Linked DNA regions of Homo sapiens. The protein of the gene in region 3 interacts with the protein of the main gene of each other region in a pairwise test. Each region holds a gene or a part of one and is shown on either strand. Other genes may lie near its edges.

Region 1 (7,701 bases), on a different chromosome or scaffold from region 3:
AGATTAGCACATTTGGCTTAGAGACCAGCTACGAAGTGGAAAACCACTAAAAGCTTCATGATAACAGAGTCTGAAAACAAAGAACAAATGAGAAACAGTCAGATGCAGCTAGAGTCCAACAGTGAAATCATTTACTTAATGGGATAAATGTGTGTCTAAAAATAATGTGCACTAACATGGTCCCATTCCTTACAGTCTTTGAAGTGATTATGGCTCACCAATTGACATTTTAGCTGAAGTAAAACTCAGTTTCTTACACTGCAGGCTTCAGCATGAACACTTTCATTTTTGAAATGTTTCAAAACCAAATCAATGTCATTACCATCTCTTTATGTGTCATTACTTTCTTCCCAGCTCTAAAGATGGTGGTCATTCGGCTGTTGTTGCCGCTTAGATTCAAATAAAGTGCTGTTAAATCTGTTCCTATATTCTAAATTCAGCAGTACAAAATACATACTACCCCCGTGGCTGCTTAATTATTTCTGCCACCATGTGTTTCCCCTGTCTTTTAAAAAGAGAGTTCTAATTCTTTATATGCAGTAACAAGTTTAGTTTGTGTGAAGTGATTAAACTGGTTTTTACTAAGCAATTTAGCAATACCTAAAAATGAGAGGTCTGTGCTACCACAGCAAAAAGATATAATAGAACCAAGTCACATACATGGAGAAATGTAAAATCATGACTATGCTGAAATTTGTTTCTTTATTGCTTTCTTCCTCTTTTCTTCAACTCTCCTGCCCTGCCTTAGAGGCCTTCTGCACTCCAGTGTTTACAAGTGGCCCAGAGAAAAATGGGTTCAACCTTGGCTTCATCAAGAATATCCAGCAGGTGTTTGGAGATAAGAAGAAGTTCTGGTTAATACCTATTGGTTCCAGGTGAGTAAATATTACCACTGGAAGAAGTTAGTACTGGACCCTGCCTTGAACCAGCAAATTCAATTTTGATTGTAGTATGCAGCAGGTATCAGTCCAGTGTGAAACTCTATTCCCCAAGTTCTTCATTTCTAGGTTAATAAAGGCAAATAAAGAGGTGAGGGTCTGATAAAATAGATATTCTCATGCTTTCTTTGTGGCAGTGTGCAGTGGCACTACCAATCTTTTATAACTGAATTTGGTAATATCTATCAAAAAATTTAAGAATCTACTTGCCCAACATCCCAGTAATTCCATTTCTGGGAATTGAATCTACCCTAAAGACAGAGACAAACTATGCACAAAAATGTTCATCACAGCATTATTTATAGCCAATAATTAGGAAACAACCTAAACAGCCAACAATATGGGAATATATATATATAATATATATTATATATATATTATATATATATTATATATATATAATATATATATATACACACATACTGGATGGAATATTATACAATCAAAAGTAATGGTTATAAAGACTATGTCACAAAAAGGGAAAGTGCTTACTATATTTTAAGTGAAAAAAGAAAAATCCAATACACTGTGATTAAAAACATAAGTATATATAGAAGAAAAACAGCAGAAGAGAAATATACCAAAAAATGGTAAAAATGGTACTATATTTTAAGTGAAAAACGAAAAATTCAATACACTGTGATTAAAAACATAAATATATATAGAAGAGAAGCAGCAGAAGAGAAATACACCAAAAAATGTTAAAAATGGTAAGGGCAATAGTCTTAGAAATTATTTATATTTTCTCCATTTTATATATTTTGTGGTTAATACTAATATTATTTTATGAATAAAAATATGAAAAGCAAGAACAAAGATTAATTTGAGGTTGTAGGTAATTCTTTTTTTATTATACTTTAAGTTCTGGGGTACATGTGCAGAACATGCAGGTTTGTTACATAGGTATGCACGTGCCATGATGGTTTGCTGCATATCAACCCATCATCTACATTAGGTATTTCTCCTAATGCTATCCCTCCCCTAGCTCCCCACCCCAGGACAGTCCCTGGTGTGTGATGTTCCCCTCCCTATGTCCATGTGTTCTCATTGATCAACTCCCACTTATGAGTGAGAACATGCGGTGTTTGGTTTTCTGTTCTTGTATTAGTTTGCTGAGAATGATGGTTTCTAGCTTCATCCATGTCCCTGTAAAGGACATGAACTCATTTTTTTGATGGTTGCATAGTATTCCATGGTGTATATGTGCCACATTTTCTTTATCCAGTCTATCATTGATGGGCATTTGGGTTGGTTCCAAGTCTTTGCTATTGTGAACAGTGCTGTAATAAACATACGTGTGCATGTGTCTTTATAGTAGAATGATTTATAATCCGATGGGTATATACCCAGTAATGGGATGGCTGGGTCAAATGGTATTTCTAGTTCTAGATCCTCGAGGAATTGCCACACAGTCTTCCACAGTGGTTGAACTAATTTACACTCCCACCAACAGTATAAAAGCGTTCCCATTTCTCCACATCCTCACCAGCATCTGTTGTTTCCTGACTTTTTAATGATTGCCATTCTAACTGGCATGAGATGGTGTCTCATTGTGGTTTTGATTTGCATTTCTCTAATGACCGGTGATAATGGGCTTTTTTTAATATGTTTGTTGGCCACATAAATGTCTTATTTTGGGAAGTGTCTGTTCATATCCTTTGCCCACTTTTTGATGGGGTTGTTTGGTTTTTTCTTTTTTTTATTATACTTTAAGCTTTAAGGTACATGGGCACAACGTGCAGGTTTGTTACATATGTATACATGTGCCATGTTGGTGTGCTGCACCCATTAACTCATCATTTAGCATTAGGTATATCTCCTAATGCTATCCCTCCCCCCTCCCCCCACCCCACAACAGACCCCAGTGTGTGATGTTCCCCTTCCTGTGTCCATGTGTTCTCATTGTTCAATTCCCGCCTATAAGTGAGAACATGCGGTATTTGGTTTTTTGTCCTTGTGATAGTTTGCCGAGAATGATGGTTTCCAGCTTCATCCATGTCCCTACAAAGGACATGAACTCATCATTTTTTATGACTGCATAGTATTCCATGGTGTATATGTGTCACATTTTCTTAATCCAGTCTATCATTGTTGTACATTTGGCTTGGTTCCAAGTCTTTGCTATTGTGAATAGTGCCGCAGTAAACATACGTGTGCATGTGTCTTTATAGCAGCATGTTTTATAATCCCTTGGGTACATACCCAGTAATGGGATGGCTGGGTCAAATGGTATTTCTAGTTCTAGATCCCTGAGGAATTGCCACACTGACTTCCACAATGGTTGAACTAGTTTACAGTCCCACCAACAGTATAAAAGTGTTCCTATTTCTCCACATCCTCTCCAGCATCTGTTGTTTCCTGACTTTTTCATGATCGCCATTCTAACTGGTGTGAGATGGTACTCATTGTGGTTTTGATTTGCATTTCTCTGATGGCCAGTGATGATGACCATTTTTTCATGTGTCTTTTGGCTGTATAAATGTCTTCTTTTGAGAAGTGTCTGTTCATATCCTTCGCCCACTTTTTGATGGGGTTGTTTGTTTTTTTCTTGTAAATTTGTTTGAGTTCATTGTAGATTCTGGATATTAGCCCTTTGTCAGATGAGTAGATTGCAAAAATTCTCTCCCATTCTGTAGATTGTCTGTTCACTCTGATGGTAGTTTCTTTTGATGGGGTTGTTTGTTTTTCTCTTGTAAATATGTTTAAGTTATTTGTAGATTCTGGATATTAGCCCTTTGTCAGATGGATAGATTGCAAAAATTTTCTCCCATTCTATAGGTTGCCTCTTCACTCTAATGAGAGTTTCTTTTGCTGTGTAGAAACTCTTTAGTATAATCAAATCCCATTTGCCAATTTTGGCTTTTGTTGCCATTGCTTTTGATGTTTTGTTCATGAAGTCTTTGCCCATGTCTATGTCCTGAATGGTATTGCCTAGGTTTTCTTCTAAGGTTTTTATGGTTTTATGTCTTACATTTAAATCTTTAATCCATCTTGAGTTAATTTTTGTATAACGTGTAAGGAAGGTATCCAGTTTCAGCTTTCTGCATATGGCTAGCCAGTTTTCCCAACACCATTTGTTAAATAGGGAATCCTTTCCCCATTGCTTGTTTTTGTCAAAGGTCAGATGGTTGTAGATTTGTGACGTTATTTCTGAGGCCTCTGTTCTGTTCCATTGGCCTATATATCTGTCTTCATATCAGTACCATGCTATTTTTGTTACTGTAGCCTTGTAGTATAGTTTAATTTGCGGTTGTAGGTCATTCTTAGAACTGCAACAATTATGCAGGGAAAGTAGTGGATGAGAAATAAACAGTCAAGCTTGTGTTCTCTGAATGACTTTGTGAACCAGATTGAACCACCATCAACTAAACTAGTTCTAGAGCAGAGCTTGCTTATAGCCTTCTTGCAGCCACTTTTCAGTCCCCTCCTTAGACAGGAATACACTCATGTTCACTTAGTTGAGGTAACTTTGTTGGGGGTAGGGTGGTAATTATGGAAAAATTTCTCCTTGATTGATTGCCTTGATACTTCCTGTGTAGCAGTTAGTATTTTAAAGACTCATGTATTTCAGAGATGTGGTGTATCCAACTAACCTGTCTATAAATCACAAGGCAAAACTATGTCAGTGGGTAATATTGATTAATAACTGTTACCAGATATTACCTATACCCTATTCACATACTCACATACACAAATATCCACACATCATCACCACATCAAAGGGAGATGTAAAATCAGTCTTCTCTGGAATAAAGAACAAAACCAAAAATCAAAGCCCATTCATTTATAATCAGTACACTTACATTCTCTTTAGAGTGCTATCAATAAAATCTGTCAAATTTCAATTTACCACATACATGAACAGGAGAAAAGGCATAGGTAACATCAAAAGTCATTCAGACTCAAATGTGGAATGCATTCAGATACCTAAACTGAAATGTTCAAACTGTAGCCTCTTCTAGCCAGGGCCAGCTCAGTTCCCTCCAATGCATCCCATCTGTTAGTGGCCAGAAATTACCCAAGGAGTTGACCCTAGCTTACCACAGGTAGCCACAAAGCGAGACCCCACATGTGGATAATTGCCCTGAAAATCTGCAGTCTAGAGATGGCTCACTCTGGCTCTTTCCCCTAGTTCCTAATAACCTTTCTGCCATGCACACCAAATAAATAACAGTGCATTTGCGCATTGTCTTTCACCAATTCACACCAGCTTATCTCCACTGTATTTAGTGTTTCAGAGACTGGTCATCTTTCTTGAAAACTTAGAATCAAAGCAGTGAGATAATTGGATATAAATTGGTATCATCATCATTAAGTGATATGTATGAAGCTTGCTGTGTGTGCATATTGCCATACTGGGCATTTTGGGAAGCAAACTATAGAGTTCTTACAAACAAGAAGTTAACACTGATGCAGACACACAAATAAGATATGGAAATCGAGAGCAATATAGCAACTAAATAATGCTATTGTAAGAGCCCATTCCACCATGGCTTTAGACAATGAGACTAAATATGGCTAAGAACCCCCCTCTTGTTTTTAAGAGGATTATAACCTTCACAAAAGTCTATGTCAGCTGCAATAGGTCACTGCCTTTCTTTTCCCATCAGCCCTGGTGATGGACACTCCTTCCCTATGAGGTCTATGAATGAGTCACAGAACCCACTGCTAGCAAATGAAGAAACCTGGGAAGACAACGAGGATGACAACCAAGGTAAGTGGGGTCAAAGACTATGAAGTCCACATTAATACAACCAATGTAATGTGGTGAGTAAATAGTGTCCAGAAAGATTTTATAAGCATGTCAACCTCATAAGTGTCCTCTGGATGGTGGAGAGCAAGTATGGCCATATTTGTTTAGTAACCATGGGTAGTTTAGATAAGATTAGATTGCAGCTTGGGAGGCTCCTTACCAGCTTTGTGATTCTGTGATTTATATTACCAGTCAGATATACATCTGGATATATATGGATTTCTAAACAATCCTGCTGGGTAGTCACTTGTAGTACTTTGCTTGAATGTGGAGTTCAATTTAATCAATGGGCAACATTGCACCTTTCTCCATCCTCTTTCATTCACATTGGTTAAATTTTCTTTAAAATCCTATACTCACTCTCTTTTTAGAATGGTTTCAATACACTAAAAACTAAAAGATAGTAATGGGGCAAGCCTACACATGCATGTAGTCTACTTTTCTAAAAGGAAGAGGGGCAAAGGAAAATAAGCTTCAACTTTCTCCTACCAGGTCACTGGGTCATCCTAAGGCATTTTGTAAAGAGCTAAAAGTTGAGTTCTCATATAATGTATCCCCATTGCCAGCCCTATTCCTTGTCTCCACCTGTTGCTGTGCCTACTTTTGTGTCTCCAACATTTACTTATGTTGCTAATACCAACCATTAGAAAGTAGTTTTGGCTACTGTTCCCAATAATGCAGTAGCTGGCAGCAATTTTGAGTAGGAACTTGTAGTAGCTATCACAAACTGTACCTGGGGTGAAGGAGGCTAAATGAAGACATGGAAAAGTATTGAAGTGGGAGCAGCGGTAGAGAACAAGCCTTTCTAATTTTTTACCCAGTTGGATTATCCAGGCCCTGATTACCAGGAAATCTAGTTTTAGAGAAAAGCATGTTACTAGGCCCAAGGAATACAAAACAGCCACAAATCCATAGATAAAAAAGAAAACAGTTATTGTCCATCCCAAAGAACTTACAAGGGCAACTCCCTTACTTCCTCCTGCTGACTATTGGAAAATTGACTATATTTTGACCTGTCTTCCTTCAGTCTTCAGTCTTTCTGAACTGACTTTTACTTACAGCAGTCACAAGTTATAACAACTCTTATTTTGGTATTAAACCCAAACTCTAATAGAAGCCAAATAATTATCAGGTCTTTACCTGGTTTGAAATAATTCACAATGAAAAAAGCTATTCATAGCTGAGCTTTGTGTTGGCAAGTGGAATACTTTAAATGTAGATATAGCATCACATCATAAAGAGGTTATATTTTGAAGCAGTCTCCAATTCCAGACCTTTTCAAAAATATTCAATCATTAAAAATTAGTATGTTATTTTATAGTTTACAAAGTGCTTTCCTATATTTTTTCTTCATATCCTTTGACCCTCACAACTTTCAGGTTAGATAGGCAGTGTTATTAATAGCATCCCTATTTTATAATTAAGAAACTAAAATTGAGAGATGTTAATCTCACATGTCAAGGTATCTTGATTCCAAATCCTAGTTTTTTTCCACTACAATGCTAGGTCTCTCCTTTGGACAAGTACATATGAGACACAGTGCTGTGATTGCATGCCATTTAGTGATCTGAAGCATTCAACTGCTTCTTACATAATCATAAAATCATAAACTGTAAGGTGCCTTTAGCTTTAGCAAGACCACTATGCCATCTTAGATAGCTGAGGGGTTTTTTTTAAGTTCATTGAAGGAGACTCCACAATCCTCCTTTGTAACCCATTCTAGTATCTAATGCAAGTTCTCATGCTGTGTTATTTGTTAGGTTGATTCTATGTTAACTTCAGTTGCTCCCATTTTCTGTGCATAACTGTCATAGACAAACAGTTCTTACATTTTTAACAACTTAGATTCCTAGGAAAGGTGCTGTAAGTTGAAATTACATGTGTGTATTTAAGTTAATTTCTTTTAGGAATCAAGTGGAATTTTTATTCCTAGCCCAAAATATAACATTTCATTTAGTATAAATGTGCTTGTATGGCCGGGCGCTGTAGCTCACGCTTGTAATCCCAGCA
Region 2 (7,701 bases), on a different chromosome or scaffold from region 3:
CGTGAACCATAATTTATTACCCTGATCTGGATTATTGGCTATTGAAGTAATTTCTAGCTTCTCACCACTATAAAGCTGTGATGATATCTCTGTACATAATTCTTAGAAGTTGGAATTATAGAGCCAAAGGGTATAAACATTTTTGAAACTTTTGTTCTATAAATGCCAAAACTTGCCATCTAAAAAAATGCCATGAAATTGCCATCCCAATACCTTTCCCCACACTGAGTATTATCACCTGTTTTTAATCATTGACAGTTTATCAGACAAAAAGAATGTATTAATCCCGACATTTTAATCTCTGCCCATGATTCACATCTGGAGCCTGTCTTTCTCTCGTGCAGCATAAGGCAAAGCTGGAATGGAGAACGAATGAGGGCAGGCAGTGAGGGGGTTAAAGCGGCTCAAATCACTAGTCTGCTAACCACACTCTCAGCGTCCCACGTACAAGGCCTGCCTGTCAGGCACTTAGCATGTGCTCAGAACGTGGTATTTTCATCACTCCTGCTTCCAGCACAACCCCCTGGCTGTGTACTTCTCCACCCTCCGAGTCTGACCTTGTCCCAGATCCATTTGGTAGAACCGGTGCATTCCTAAGGCTGCCAGAGCCCCCATCCTTCCTTTTGCCAGCCATGAGTGATACTGTAAGAAATAAATATCCTTGTGTACGGTCCCATCTGGTCCTACCGCAGCTGTCTGCAGTGGGATCCCTGTTCAGCGCCCTGCACGCCACACACATGCCCATCCTACCTGTTCATATTCCATACATATGCATGCATATGTACATAGGTGCTCGCACGCATGCACATGTGCTCATGTGTGCATAAACATATATGCACACGTGTTCATGCCCCAGTGTGCCTTGGTGCTTCTTCTTAACTCCTTCAAGAGCAGAGCCAGTGCGTTCACGCACGTGCACATACACAGTGCTGTGCATTCAGGGTTCAGGCCCAATTAGGCCAGTGGGAATCCTCTCCCACATAGACTTTCTGTATGTCCCACAGCCCTGAGCTAGGACACCCTGCTGTCTAATCCCACAGTTCCTGTACTTCCTTCTTACTTTATTGGTATTCCCTATAGATCATTTTCCTGCTGGCCTAGAAGCTCTGCTAATCCTTAACTTGCTCACTGCTGTTTCTCCAGTGCCTAACTCGCTACTTAGGAGGTAGTGAGATGCACAAGAAATATTTGTTGGGTGAAAAAAAGAAGGAACAGACTTAAAGCTGATAAAGGATGTTGTTCCAAATATTTTTAGAGTCTCTTTTAACAAAGTGGCCAATTTCAGATAAACTCATGGTTTCACAAGAAAATATCTTCGCAGCATCAGATTTCAAGCAGCCTGGTCAGTCATCCTTTCGGAGAGACTGGAAAAAATGCAGAATTGAAAACAGGTCCTTGCCCAGCTAAACATCTTGTAAATTTTACTGTTTTGCAAAAGTTCCTGTCACAGGAATAATGTATGGGGGAGAGGTTTAGCAAGGGGCATTGCTTGCTCCTCCTCCTCAGTCCTTGAGAATGTTCTAAACTAAAGCCTTGAGTGACTGCTTCTCTGGCTCGCTCTCAACCAACAAATGCTGTGGAATCCCAGGACCGCTGGCTGCTCCCTTTAGCGCAGGGTCTCTGGGCTGCTTTGTGGAAAGAAGGTTTATTTTGTCCAGCTGGGCACAGGAGCGGAGAGGAAGAATGTGCAGGCCTGTGTCCCTTTTAACAAAGGGAGAACTCGATGTGGTTTCAGAGAAGCTTGTCTTGCTGGGTGACTTCATGTGGCCTGCATTCATTTCATCCAACATTGACTCTGCAAACTTTTTTTTTTCGAGACAGAGTCTTGCTCTGTCACCCAGGCTGGAGTGCAGTGGCACAATCTCGGCTCACTGCAACCTCCATCTCCCAGGTTCAAGCAATTCTCCTGCCTCAGCCTCCCAAATAGTTGGGATTACTGGCACGTGCCACAGCACCCAGCCTTTTTTTTTTTTTTTTTTGTATTTTTAGTAGAGACGGGGTTTTACCATGTTGGCCAGGATGGTCTTGATCTCTTGACCTCGTGATCCATCCACCTCGGCCTCCCCAAGTGCTGGGATTACAGGCATGAACTCTGCAAACATTTTTTGAGTCCCTGCTGTGTGCCAGGCTTAGAGATGATGACAATGTGGTCATGGGAAGAGAGAGACTCACCACGGTGGTTGCTGGAGGATTTGGGGAGCACATGAAAGGGGCATCTGAGCTATGGGTGACCAGAGAAATGTTCTGGAGGGTGGTTGGGGGTGGGTAGTGCAAAGAAAGGCAGGCTGAGACATGCAGTAGGAGAGGCAGGAGCCAGGCTAAGGCCACCATGAGCAGCATCATTCTAAGAAGCTGGATTTTCTCCTGCAGGAAGTAGGGAGCCATTGAGGGTGGGGAACAGATGACAGTAGGCTGTTTGGCCTGGTCATACCATTGGCTGAGGCCCTGTCCCCCAGGTGAGTCTGTTACAACCATCGATTGTGGACCATTCATCCCATCGCTCACTCTCCCAGCAGCCTCCAGCAAGAGCTACGATTTTACTGCACTTCATTAAATTCCACACAATGTTTTAATGACCTGAGCTCCGACCTTTCTGGCCTCCAGCAGGGAAAGGTCTGGCTTTTCCTTTTCAGGGAGTAGCGGGCTGGGCAGACCGGCCTCCCTTCTCGCAGCCTCGCACAAGGAGCCTGAGCACGTAAGACATCTGGAATGCATCAAAGGCGAGGCCCAGCCAGAGCCGGCGTGCTCGGTGCTGCTGCCTAACTCCTTCAAGAGCAGAGCCGCCACATTCACAAAGCGTCTGGAATCGGAACTGATCGTCCTCTCTGCTCTTTCTGCTTTCCTTCCAGGCCCTTCCACCGCAGCCATCCGCACGGGAGGCCTCGCGATTGCTCGGAACCATCCCGCAGGAGTTCAGCTGATATTTTCTAGTGTGGGGCGAGAGATTTTGTGGAGCGCATTTAAGGGGTTTTTGTTGTGACTGCTGCCTTGTATACATTTATTTTCTTTCTTGGAACTGGGCCTCGCCCTCCTCCCACTGACATGATGGCCCAGTCCAAGGCCAATGGCTCGCACTATGCGCTGACCGCCATCGGCCTGGGGATGCTGGTCCTTGGGGTGATCATGGCCATGTGGAACCTGGTACCCGGCTTCAGCGCGGCCGAGAAGCCAACAGCTCAGGGCAGCAACAAGACCGAGGTGGGTGGCGGCATCCTCAAGAGCAAGACCTTCTCTGTGGCCTACGTGCTGGTCGGGGCCGGGGTGATGCTGCTGCTGCTTTCTATCTGCCTGAGTATCAGGGATAAGAGGAAGCAGCGGCAGGGCGAGGACCTGGCCCATGTCCAGCACCCGACAGGCGCTGGGCCTCACGCCCAGGAGGAAGACAGGTGAGGCCTGACTGTCCCCTTCCCTCCCCGGATCGGGGATGGGCACGCACGCATGCACACACATGTTCACACCTTTCCGTGGTGAAAAGACTGTCATCTACAGGCTTTATTGTCCCATGTTCGCCCATGACGCCTCTGTCAAAACGGTTTATCATTTTACAAATAACTTTAGACTTTTCTACCAGAGCTTCCCAAATAGCATGGTACAAATGGATTACAGGTAAACCAAGATTTTTTAAAAATTTTATTACAATAGATTTTTACACCATGGAATACTATTCAGCCATAAAAAGGAACAAAATACTGTCTTTTGGGCCAGGTGCAGTGGCTCACTCCTGTAATTCCAGAACTTTGGGAGGCCGAGGCAGGTGGATCACTTGAGGTCAGGAGTTTGAGACCAGCCTGGCCAACATGGTGAAACCCTGTCTCTACTAAGAATACAAAAATTAGCTGGGCATGGTGGCACATGCCTGTAGTCCCAGCTACTGGGGAGGCTGAGGCATGAGAATCGCTTGAACCCAGGGGAGTGGAGATTGCAGTGAGTGAGCTGAGATACCGCCACTGCACTCCAGCCTGGGTGACAGAGTGAGACTCTGTCTCAAAAAAAAAAATACAAAAACAAAAAACTGTCTTTTGCAGCAACTTGGATGGAGCTGGAGGCCATTACTCTTAAGTGAACCAGCATTTTGACCCGCCCAGGGTCACTGAACAGGGCCTGGGGTGGCCAGCATATTTGCTTGTCCCTTCACCCCAGCATGCTGTGTGTATGCTTTAATTTGAAATGGCTGGGAAGCAATTTTCCATTTGAGCAAAAATGCCACCAACAAATTTAAAAGATAAGTGATACATTGGGGAAGATATGATAATAGTTGATATCCCTATTATAAAAAGAGCTCTTAGAAATGAATATGTAAGATGAATATACCAATAGGAAACAGACAAAGATTATGAATATTCCATAGATGTTCAACCAATAGATGTTCAACTTCATTAGTCATGAAATGCAAGCAAAAAGATGTCTTTTCTTTTTTTTGCCTATCATATTGATCAAGATAGACAGCCCCTACTGTTGGAGAGTTGTAGGGAAGATGGATTGCTGATGAAATGTTGACTGATAGAAACTTTCTTAAGAGTTTCACCATAAGGGGCAGTACTGAAGATGTGCGTATTGATCCTATTTATAAGAGTTTATCCCTGGGAGACAGTCCCACAGGTGCAAAGGAGTTTGTACCAGTATATTTATCAGATCATTGTTTAGGATAACAAAAACTTAGAAACAACCTAAAAAACCACCTACTGAGTTAAATGACGTACCTATTCAATGGAGTTCTATGCAGCAACTGTTGATCTATATTTGTTAATGTGGGACCATATCCACAACAATGAGAAAAGGGGGATATAATACAGCATCTTTGGTCAGGTTATGGTCCCATCAAATGTTGTGGCTGTGGGATTGGAGAGGGGTAGGAAAGGTATACACCAGAATGTTACAGTGGTTTGTCTCCAGGTAGAAGGATTCGGGATGTTTTTCTTTTCTTCATTAGATGTTTCTGTGTTGTTTGAATTTTCTACAAGCATTTCTTATCTTTATAGTGGGAAGGGAATTGTTCTTAATGTAATATGGATTAAAGGGAACCCTTGGTACACTAATGGTGGGAATGTAAATTAGTGCAACCACTGTGGAGAAGTTTAGAGTTTCTTCAAAAAACTCAAAATTGAGCTGCCAAATGATTCAGCAATGCCACTTGTGGGTACACACCAGAAGAAAAAAAAATCTCATTATATTGAAGGGATTTCTGCCCTCCAATGTTACCAGTTACCACCCCTTTCCATGGTAATGACCTGGAAGTTACCATCCCTTTCCTAGAATGTTCTAAATAGCTTGCCCTTCAATTTACATTAACCCACTTCTTACTTTTGCACATAATTGAAAGTGGGTGTAAGTGGGTACAAATACAATTTCCAAATTAAACTCATTTTCTGATAGCAAAGAATAATATATGCTGTATTGGTCAGGGTTCTCCAGAGACACAGAACCAGGGGGATATATATTTTTTTAAATGGAGATTTATTATGAGGAATTAGTTCCTGGGATCATGGAAGCCAAAAAGTCCCACAATTTGCCATCTGTAAGCTGCAGACCCAGGAAAGCAAGGGGTATAATTCATTCTGAGTTTGAAGGCCTGATTGAGAACGAGGAGAGGTGAGGGTATAGATCCTAGTCTGAGAGCAGGAGAAGATGAAATGAGATGTCCCAGCTCAAGCAGTGAGGCAGGGAGAAATGAGTCAAATTCCTGCTTGCTCTGACTTTGGGTCTATCTAGGGCCTCCATGGGTTGGATGGTGCCACCACACTGAGGAGGGGAATCTGCCTTACAGAGCCCACCGAGCTGAATGCTAGTATCTTCCAGAAACACCCTCACTCTCACAGTGTTTAATATGGGCAACCATGGCCAGTCAGGTTGACACCTAAAATTAACCATCACACATGCTTATTCTAGAAAACTTGAGAAATATAGAAAAGAACAAATATCAATCACTCATCATTCCCCACCCTAGCTGTGAGCACATTTGAGTTCATTCCTAAAGGAGGGTGGGAGGAAAACCAAGGCAGACTTTGAGGTTTCTGATGTTGGCCATGATCACCCCACAGGTTCAAGTATAGAGTCCTGGAAAGTGGCTATTGGCGTTAATTCTGACAAATGTGTAGAAAATATCCTGACTTTTTGGTTTTCTCTTTCAACAGTCAAATGAGAATAAGGCTGAGAGGACCTGATCTTTTTGAGTCTTGGGATAAACTTGGAAGATAAAATTACAGAATAATTTGAGACACACATAAATGTTATATTTCAGATATTCTTTCTCTACTGAAAGTTGGTAGCAACTTTGTACATTTCTGTGTTGCCTTTGACCAAAGGACCCAGCTGAGCATTGGAATAGCTCACGCAGCATGTCGCTAAGTGGGAAAGGCTTAAAGGCAAAGGAGGTTTAACACCCAGATAACATGGTGGAGTAGTTGAGAGTACAGTGTTCACTTCCTGCCCTCCCATTTCCTGAAGGTCTGACCAAGTCATTTAATCTTGATGTATCTCAGTCCATCTATAAATTGGGTATTATAATAATAGTGAGATAGAAAACAGGCAGGACTTGTTTTCTGATCATAACCCTGCTGACCAAAACAGGATGTGGTCCAGATGAGATAAGGTTTAAAAAAACACTAGCCAAAGCCAGCAAACGGGAACGAGGGTGATCCCTGGCTGCCCTCATTGCTCATCAGCATGGGACACTCTCACCAGTGCCATGACAGTTTACAATTGCCATGACAACGACCTGGCAGTTACCATCCCTTTCCATGGTAACGACCCAGAAGTTACCTTTCCTAGGAAGTCTTAAATAGCTTGCCCCTCAATTTGCATTAACCCACCCCTTAATTTGCATGTGACTAAAAGTGGGTATAAATACAATTTCCAAGAGCCCCTATGTGGCCAACTCAGGGTGTACTGCCTATGAGTTAGCCCTGCTCCACAAGAAGCAGTGCCCTTCAATAAAGAATTGTGGTCTAACACCACTGGCTCACCCTTGAATTCCTTCCTTGATGAAGCCAAGAACCCTCCCAGGCTAAGCCCCAATTTGGGGACTCACCTGTCCTGTCCTGCATGACTAGTACTTAACTCATAGTGTTGTCAGGAATCTGAAATTGGTTCATATTTGCTAAAATACTTAGAAGGGAGCCCAGCTCATAGTAAACACTTGAAGTATTCACTTTTATTGCCTCTAAGACCCATTTGTTATTTACAAGGCTGCTGTGTGTGGACTCTTTGGAGCCCATCCCTTTGGGATTTTGAATGACTTGAGCACAGGCTAACACTCTCCCTGTCTGTGTGTCTTCTTGCAGCCAGGAGGAAGAAGAGGAGGATGAGGAGGCTGCCTCAAGGTACTATGTTCCCAGCTACGAGGAAGTGATGAACACAAACTACTCAGAAGCAAGGGGAGAGGAGCAGAACCCGAGGTTGAGCATCTCTCTCCCGTCCTATGAGTCACTGACGGGGCTCGACGAGACCACCCCCACATCCACCAGGGCTGACGTGGAGGCCAGCCCTGGGAACCCCCCTGACAGGCAGAACTCTAAGTTGGCCAAACGACTGAAACCGCTGAAAGTTCGAAGGATTAAATCTGAAAAGCTTCACCTCAAAGACTTTAGGATCAACCTCCCAGACAAAAACGTCCCTCCTCCCTCGATAGAGCCTTTGACTCCTCCACCGCAGTATGATGAAGTCCAGGAGAAGGCCCCCGACACCCGGCCGCCCGACTGAATG
Region 3 (8,404 bases):
TCTGCACCGGCACCGGTCTCTGAGTTCCCTCAGTTTTTATTGATTATTATTTTCATTATTTCAGCAAAAAGGAATGTAGTAGTAGAGCAGGTTGATAATAAGGAGAAGGTCAGCAAAAAACATGTGAGCAAAAGAATCTATGTCATAATTAGGTTCAAGGGAAGGTACTATGCCTAGATGTGCATGTAAGCCAGATTTATGTTTCTCTCCACCCAAACATCTCAGCGGAGTAAAGAATAACAAGGCAGCATTACTGCAAACATATCTCACCTCCCACCATAGGGCGGTTTTTCTCCTATCTCAGAATTGAACAAATGTGCAATCGCGTTTTATATGGAGACATTCAGTTCCCAGGGGCAAGCAGGAGACAGTGGCCTTCCTCTATCTCAACTGCAAGAGGCTTTCCTCTTTTACTAATCCACCTCAGCACAGACCCTTTATGGGTGTCAAGCTGGGGGACGGTCAGGTCTTTCTCATCCCACGAGGCCATATTTCAGACTATGCATGGGAAGAAACCTTGGACGATACCCCGCTTTCAAGGGCAGAAGTCCCTGTGGCTTTCCGCAGTTAATTGTGCCCCTGGTTTATTGAGACTAGAGAATGGCAATGACTTTTACCAAGTATACTGCTTGTAAACATTTTGTTAACAAGGCACGTCCTGCACATCCCTAGATCCCTTAAACCTTGATTTTATACAACACATGTTTTTGTGAGCTCCAGATTGGGTCAAAGTGCTGGGGCAAAGTGGCTGGGGCAAAGCTACAAATTAACAACATCTCAGCAAAGCAATTGTTTAAAGTACAGGTCTTTTTCAAAATGGAGTCTCTTATGTCTTTCCTTTCTACATAGACACAGTAACAGTCTGATCTCTCTTTCTTTTCCCTACATCTAGTCACCTTGAGCTCTTGAAGGGACTGATGATAAGCTCAGGGGCCAGGGCAGGGGCACCAAAGATTTCCCCTAGCTGGAGCCCTTGGACCCTTGGACTCCCGCTCTGACCCTTATCTCTGTCCTGCAGAAAATGGGTGAATTGCCTTTAGACATCAACATCCAGGAACCTCGCTGGGACCAAAGTACTTTCCTGGGCAGAGCCCGGCACTTTTTCACTGTTACTGATCCTCGAAATCTGCTGCTGTCCGGGGCACAGCTGGAAGCTTCTCGGAACATCGTGCAGAACTACAGGTGACCACCCCTCAATCTGACCCTGTGTGCCAGGATCTCATTTTCTGTGATTAATATAATATGTTTTGTACCTGCCTCCTCAAGCTTGACAGTGACCCTGTCCCTCAATCCCCTCACTCTCTAGCCCCGTCTGTTGGCATCACAGAGCTTTAACCCAAAGGATTTTAGGGCATTTGGGTTGAGAAGATGGCATTGATATTTATGGGAGGGGCTGCTCTATGCATCACAAACCTCTACAGGGATCTATCCCATTGCGGGGTCACCCTCTGCAAGGATAGAGGTGCTCAAAGTGGAGTCCCAGGAAGATAGGAGGGAAATCCCCTTATCTTTGGGAGGAAAAACTCTTGCAATGCTTGCAGCCATTTTTGACCCACTGGAAACCACCATCATCCCTGACCCAGCATTTTGGCAGAAACAGAAGGGTACCCCTCTTTGTGTGGCTATAAGGGAAATAGAAATAGGAGCCTCCACTTCTGGGAAACTTTGGCCCTCTCCCAAAGATAAGGAGCTTCCTTATGCTGAGACTGGGGGCTGAAGTTCCTGGTTCTCTGTCCAGAGTTACCCTGAGCTGGGCAGGTGGGGCCTGTGAGGGCAGATCTGCCCCCTGGCATAGCCTGTCTGCTCCTTGCCAACTTCTGCAGGGCCGGCGTGGTGACCCCAGGGATCACCGAGGACCAGCTGTGGAGGGCCAAGTATGTGTATGACTCCGCCTTCCATCCGGACACAGGGGAGAAGGTGGTCCTGATTGGCCGCATGTCAGCCCAGGTGCCCATGAACATGACCATCACTGGCTGCATGCTCACATTCTACAGGCAGGTCTTGTCCCACGTCCCCTTCTTCAGTGCCCTAAGCTAGAGCATAGCTTGACTAGGTGCGCTTCTTGTCTGGGCCAACTGGGTGAGTGAAAGATTGTGTCAGAATCGCTTCCATTCCTCAGAATTCAGCCTCAGGAGGTCTCTCACCCCAGAGACAGTAGGTGTGTTTGTATAAATGGGGGTGGGGGTACATAGGGGTTACCAGAACAGGTTCTAGGGCCATTAACTGGGTCCCTTCTTAGGCTTGGGGAATAACCTTTGGTTTCATTACAGGGGTCTAAAGATGAGGGCCACTGTAGACGGGGCAGAAGTGAGTGTCTTTGTTCCCTCAGGAAGACCCCAACCGTGGTGTTCTGGCAGTGGGTGAATCAGTCCTTCAATGCCATTGTTAACTACTCCAACCGCAGTGGTGACACTCCCATCACTGTGAGGTGAGAGCCAGCCCCCAGCAGCAGCTGCACTGTCCCATCTGACCCTCTCCTCCCAGCCTGCAGTGCCCTCTCCTTTCTCTCCGGTTCCCTGTGGACCATGCAGCCAGTGCTCAGCGCCCTCTCCTCAGCCTGCCCCACCCCGAATTACCCTGCCTAACTGAAGGCATGAGGTCCTCTTATGTATGCTGTGGGGGACCCACCCCTCTTCACAGGGTGCTACTGGGGCTTCTAGACAAGTTTACGCCGGAGATGGAGGGAAGGCTTCTTCTGCAAGGAGCTTCCCCTTTTATGCCTCATGTATTGAGGACTTGGCATATCCCTAAAGGAAAGGGCCACCTGCTGGACTTGTCACCTCTCCCCGTGACCTGGCTTTTCCACCCACAGGCAGCTGGGGACAGCCTATGTGAGTGCCACCACTGGAGCTGTGGCCACGGCCCTGGGACTCAAATCCCTCACCAAGGTAAAGGCCCCTCACTCCCCTGACCACCCCATTCATCCTCTATCTGCCTCCTTCTTCCTCATCACACCTCCAGTTCTGACCTATATGCCCCCTATATCTCCCCAGAGTCCCTCACCACCCCATGGCCCTTAGGGCCACTGAACAACACCCTTCCTCCCCAGCACCTGCCCCCCTTGGTCGGCAGATTTGTGCCCTTTGCAGCAGTGGCAGCTGCCAACTGCATCAACATCCCCCTGATGAGGCAGAGGTGAGTGACCCCGGCTCCTGGCATGTGCATGCCCAGAATGTAGCACACTGTCCATCCACGCAGACCACCTCAGAATGGGGACATCCCTCTCCCTCCCCAGACATGAGCTGCTGGGCCCTGGCTCAGTCTGACCCTGGGATCCTCAGGTGGGAGAACCAGCCTTTGAGCCTGGGGTGTGTGAGGGGACCCTGAGGAGCCGCTGCTCATTCGGGCATTGCAGGTGGGATCCGGGGCCTGTGATCTGACCCCAACCCCCCTCCCTTGCAGAGAGCTGCAGGTGGGCATCCCGGTGGCTGATGAGGCAGGTCAGAGGCTTGGCTACTCGGTGACTGCAGCCAAGCAGGGAATCTTCCAGGTGGTGATTTCAAGAATCTGCATGGCGATTCCTGCCATGGGTAAGGCGGGAGTGGCTGGGTGGGGCATAGGAGACTCTGAGAGAAGCAGGTGCAGTTCTCAGGGACTTTGGAGGACTCTGGGGAGAGAGGGAGGAGCTTTGAGGGGGGTCACCCTTCACAGTTCCTGACTTTAACTCCACTACTAATGTTCTCCTTCTTGGCCCTGCTCTCCCCACAGCCATCCCACCACTGATCATGGACACTCTGGAGAAGAAAGACTTCCTGAAGGTAGGCGACTGTACCTCTCTTGTCCTGGAATGGGCGATGGCTGGGAGAAGTGACCAGGCCCCAACTCTCTCTCCAGCCTCGCCTGATTCTCTAAGACTTGCCAGCCCTTCTCCTGACCCCTGCACCGCCTCCTCCACCTTCGTTCATTCAGCAAGAATGAACTGGGCTGGGGTGAAGGAACTCTGCAGGGGCAGGAGGAGAGGACAAAGGAAGGAAACCAACTTCATCAGTGTTACTCCAGTGGCTTCTGACACACAGAAGGGGACTGTCATAGTCATGCTTGATCTCATGCTCATTCTTTTACCCCCTAGTGCCTCCATACTGAGAGGTACACACGGGTGAACACGCACACACAGACATGAACAGGACACGAAAGCAAAGCACAGGAACAAGCTCTGGCTCATTCACAGAATCATTTATTCACAAATGTATTGAGTGCCATGCACCAGGCATGTTTTAGGGCTGAGGAGATGGCACTGAACACAATGGTTATGGCCCCTGTCCTCATGAAGTTTATAGTCTGATGCAGAAACCAATAAACAAGGAGGCACCCAATAAATACATTCTTAGAAAGTGTAATATGTGCTTTGTAGGAAAGCAATGGGGGTAGTGTAATTGAGATTCATGGGGGAGAGCTGTTTAGATAGGATGATCAGAGAAGGGGTCTTTAATGCCGCAAAGGATGAGGAGAGAGCCAAATAACGCAGAGAAGAGTGTTTGGGGTACAGAAAACAGTCAGTGCAAGGGCACTGCAGTAGGAGGGGCTTGCACATTTGAGGAACAGGTTGGTGGTCCCTGTGGCCAGAGCAAATTGAGAAGAGTGCCGAGGAAGAGATGTGCTTGGAAAGGGTCAGATTCATGCCACTGGGATGGGAAGAGGTAAGTGGAGGTTCACAGGAGGTTTCCTGAAGAAATCAGCTCCTGGAGGAAGTGAGGGAAGAAAAAAAAGGGCCAGGGAGTGCCATGGCAACCAATTCTGAGAGGTGAGAGGTCATGGGATGCCGGGGAGGGTGATCAGCAGACAGGCCTGGCTGGAGTGGAAGGGCGTGATCTGGAGGTCCCAGCCCTGTCATTGCCTTGGGAGAAAGAAAACGGCCACAGGTCTAAGGGCTCCAAGGCAAGGCTGATGGGATAGAGCTATGGTGGGTGAAATGGGGTGACAGTGAGGCAGGGGACACAAGCCGTTCCATTGTCTTTCTGTCTCTCCACAGCGCCGCCCCTGGCTGGGGGCACCCCTGCAGGTGGGACTGGTGGGCTTCTGGTAAGTGTGCAAGGAGTTAGCTGGGGTGTGTGGGAGTGCCTTGTCCATGGTGGATGTGGGTGGGTATGGATTGTCTTTAAGATGTTTATAGACATCATCCATTCATACATTCAGTGGGTGTGTGTTTGGAACAACTATAGGGTCTACTTTGTGTGTTACGGGGTGGTCCCTGTCCTTGAAGGTCAAGATCCTAGTGAGGGGGTTCCAGTCTTCATCTATAAGAGGAAACCATGGAAATGTACCTTTTGGTGCCATCCAGGAGATTCATGCCCATTTAATTCCTGATTCTGCCACTTACTGGTTGTGGGGCTCTCTTTCCTCAGAACCTGATGTCCAGGTTGGGTTTACTATTCCTAAAAGGTCCTTTCAGCTTTTATCAATCTCCACCCCTAGGGCCTATCTCCAAGGATGGGGTGGGGTGCAGGGAGGGAACACCCTAAGGCCAAAGCTTTACAAACCTTTCCAACACTTGTCTCCCCCAGCCTGGTATTTGCAACCCCCCTGTGCTGTGCCCTATTCCCCCAGAAGAGGTAAGTGCTGTCCCTGGGCTGGGTGGGGGACTCTGGATTGGACTCTGCATCTCTGGACCAGCTGACCTAGGGTCTTCCAGGGTGTTCAGGAGGAGGCCTGGCAGGCACTCCACTGATTCTGGGAGTGGGGGAATGACAGTGAGCCAGTCCTTCTGGCAGTAGAAGGAGAGGATTTTTCAGCCTGGGAGGAGGTGGGATGGCAATCCCTGGGCCTGAGTGGGGTTGGATTCAGGGGACGTTAACTGGCCTGTGCTGTTCTATTGCAGCTCCATACACATAAGCAACCTGGAACCAGAGCTGAGAGCTCAGATCCATGAGCAAAACCCCAGCGTTGAAGTGGTCTACTACAACAAGGGGCTTTGAGGAGGGTCAGCCTCTGTCCCCTCCCTCACTTCCTTGGGCTGCTGCTTTAGTGGAGTCATGTCACCCCTACCACTTGGCTATCTGCCTAGCACTGGGCAGGGGCCTTGGTGGGCAGATGGCAATTGAGGGTAGCAACCTATTAGGGTGGGGGAGGGACCTCCATAAGGCTTTTCCTCCCTTCTCTGGTTTCAAAGATCAGAGCACATAACCCCTCCTGTGCTTGAGTGTCCATGCATATACATACATGATACACATGTGTATGTGTACATTGGGTCCTGAAAGCTAGAAGCAGGCATGCTAGCCTAGTATGTTCTGACATCTGGCTTCCCTTCTCAGCCTCATGTCCACCTGCCTGCCAGCCAGGCTACAGGTGTGACTTCCTTCTCTAAACTGTTACACCAGCCAAGTTATTTTTGATGGCACCTCATCCCTTCTAGAAATAGGAGGAGCCCCAGGATCTCAGGACAGAGACTTATAGACACTAGTAGGACAAAGCGGGCTGAATCCTTCAGGTTTCTGATACCTAGCTCCCCAAGCTGACTGGGCTGGCAGAGGAGAACATGTTGAGACAAGGGAGGCAGGGGACTTATGCATCCCTCAGTGCCATCCCTTGTATCCTGGAATAGCTCCATTTCCCCTCCTCCTCTCTACCAGACAAAGGAGTGCCTGTGTCCTGTACTGCCCTCGCTGTCTCCCCCACCACCCTACTTGACAGCGTGGGCATCTTCAGGCACAGCCTTGGGAGTTCCTGGTGTGCTCTGACATCATGACCTCAAATCTAAATCCTCCAATCCCAACTCCCTTTCCCAAACAAAAAGCCACAGAGGCAGAGCAAGCATTCCCCTTTAAGAGCTTCCACTGCACCCCCTCCCAAGGGACACAGCGGTAGGAATGGTGCTTAAACTCCACAGGTATCAGAGAGGGTGTAACTAGGACATCCTCAAGGGCAGCTAGGCCCCGAATGTACAATGTTAAGACAGGGAATTTTGTGTTCCATTGACTTTTTTTTTTTTTTTTAATGGAGTTTCACTATTTTGCCCAGGCTGGAGTGCGATGGTGCGATCTTGGCTCACTGCAACCTCTGCCTCCTGGGTTCAAGTGATTCTCTTGCCTCAGTCTCCCGAGTAGTGGAAATTACAGGTGTGTGCTACCACATCTTGCTAGTTTTGTATTTTTAGCAGAGATGGGGGTTTCACCATGTTGGCCAGGCTAGTCTCGAACTCCTGACCTCAGGTGATCCACCTGCCTTGGCCTCCCAAAGCACTGGGATTACAAGCATGAGCCACTGTGCCCAGCCTGTTCCACTGACATTTCTTAGACATTCAGCAAAACCCCCACCTTAACCTCTTTTCTTTCTTGAGGGTTGGTCCTGTCCCCACCTCCACCCTCCCACCCCCTGGAAGAGGAAGGGCCCGGGCATCAGTGGCTAGTCCAAATAAAATATGGGCTTGGGGATGGAATGGGTGGTGGTAAGTTCACAGAGTGTAGTTAGATCCCAACTCCCATGACCTCTGGCTTCAGTGGTGGGTGGGGCAGGGCAGATGAAAGGGCTTCAGTGGGAACCTCTGAGAGCATTTTCCTGTTCCCCCTATCAACCGCCCCCAGTGATAACATCTGTGAAGCCAGCCATTACTCAATAAACTGCAAACTTGTCTACTTCTTGGTCTTCACTTGATTCCACGTCCTGAGGGCCCAGAAAGAGTCCCCTGCTTGCAGCCTTCCGTCTCTCCCTGGACTCTCCCCAAGTCCAGGTCTTGTCTCATTCCTCCCCCTGTGTAGGGAGCCTCATGCCCCAGCAGAGGGAGCTCTGAGATTAGAAAATCAGTCCTCCCTCTGGCACCCCCAAGTATGTACTAAGACAGAGGGCGAATGTAGATGCTTTCACCTTTTTTTTTTTCCTTTTCTTTTCTTTCTTTCTGTTTTTTTTTTTTTTTTTTTTTTTTGCGACAGGGTTTCACTCTATCACCCAGGCTGGAGTGCAGTGGCACCATCATGGATCACAGCTCACTGCAGCCTCAACCTCACCAGTTCAATTGATCCGCCTGCCTCAGCCTACCAAGTAGCTGAGACTACAGGCACGTGCCACCACACCCAGCTAATCTTCTGTATTTTTTTATAGAGATGGTTTTTGCCAAGTTGCCCAGGCTGGTCTCCAATTCCTGGGCTCAAGCCATCCACCTGCCTTGGCCTCCCAAAGTGCTGGGATTACAGGCGTGAGCCACCGTGCCCGGCCTAGATAACCAGTTTTAATTTCATCCTGTCCTGTCAATCACCAAGCCCACTGGAATCCTTAGTCAACTCTTAAAGCTCTTTCTGCAGTTACACTTTTGGCCTTTGGCAATCCCCTTGAAAAGAGGCCTTGTATTGCCAAAAACTGCAATCACTTTTGCACCAACCTAATACTTTTACTGGAAAATCTATGTAACATAACCCCATGTGGGGAGTGAGGTACAGAAATCTCTGCAAAACAAAACCCTTAAGAACATTTTATA

Evidence for each region. Proteins that work in one complex are often made in the same cells at the same time.
Region 1: the proteins of SFXN3 (region 3) and ZDHHC15 interact in binary tests that used the Homo sapiens proteins (3 or more experiments, as listed by UniProt).
Region 2: the proteins of SFXN3 (region 3) and TMEM51 interact in binary tests that used the Homo sapiens proteins (3 or more experiments, as listed by UniProt).

Annotation. Positions count from the first base shown.
Region 1 is NC_000023.11:75,415,038-75,422,738, reverse strand, and holds part of ZDHHC15 (palmitoyltransferase ZDHHC15), read left to right. Parts: intron 1-748; coding exon 749-875; intron 876-5,548; coding exon 5,549-5,652; intron 5,653-7,701. UniProt on the Homo sapiens protein: Palmitoyltransferase that catalyzes the addition of palmitate onto various protein substrates.
Region 2 is NC_000001.11:15,212,046-15,219,746, forward strand, and holds part of TMEM51 (transmembrane protein 51), read left to right. Parts: intron 1-2,849; 5' UTR 2,850-3,042; coding exon 3,043-3,386; intron 3,387-7,280; coding exon 7,281-7,698; 3' UTR 7,699-7,701.
Region 3 is NC_000010.11:101,033,674-101,042,077, forward strand, and holds the end of SFXN3 (sideroflexin-3), read left to right. Parts: intron 1-1,018; coding exon of another isoform or gene 1,019-1,021; coding exon 1,022-1,182; intron 1,183-1,823; coding exon 1,824-1,994; intron 1,995-2,270; coding exon of another isoform or gene 2,271-2,329; coding exon 2,330-2,428; intron 2,429-2,812; coding exon 2,813-2,888; intron 2,889-2,993; exon of another isoform or gene 2,994-3,049; coding exon 3,050-3,135; intron 3,136-3,402; coding exon 3,403-3,530; intron 3,531-3,708; coding exon 3,709-3,758; coding exon of another isoform or gene 3,759-4,100; exon of another isoform or gene 4,101-4,697; intron 4,698-4,969; coding exon 4,970-5,019; intron 5,020-5,501; coding exon 5,502-5,549; intron 5,550-5,815; coding exon 5,816-5,912; 3' UTR 5,913-7,568; downstream 7,569-8,404. UniProt on the Homo sapiens protein: Mitochondrial serine transporter that mediates transport of serine into mitochondria, an important step of the one-carbon metabolism pathway.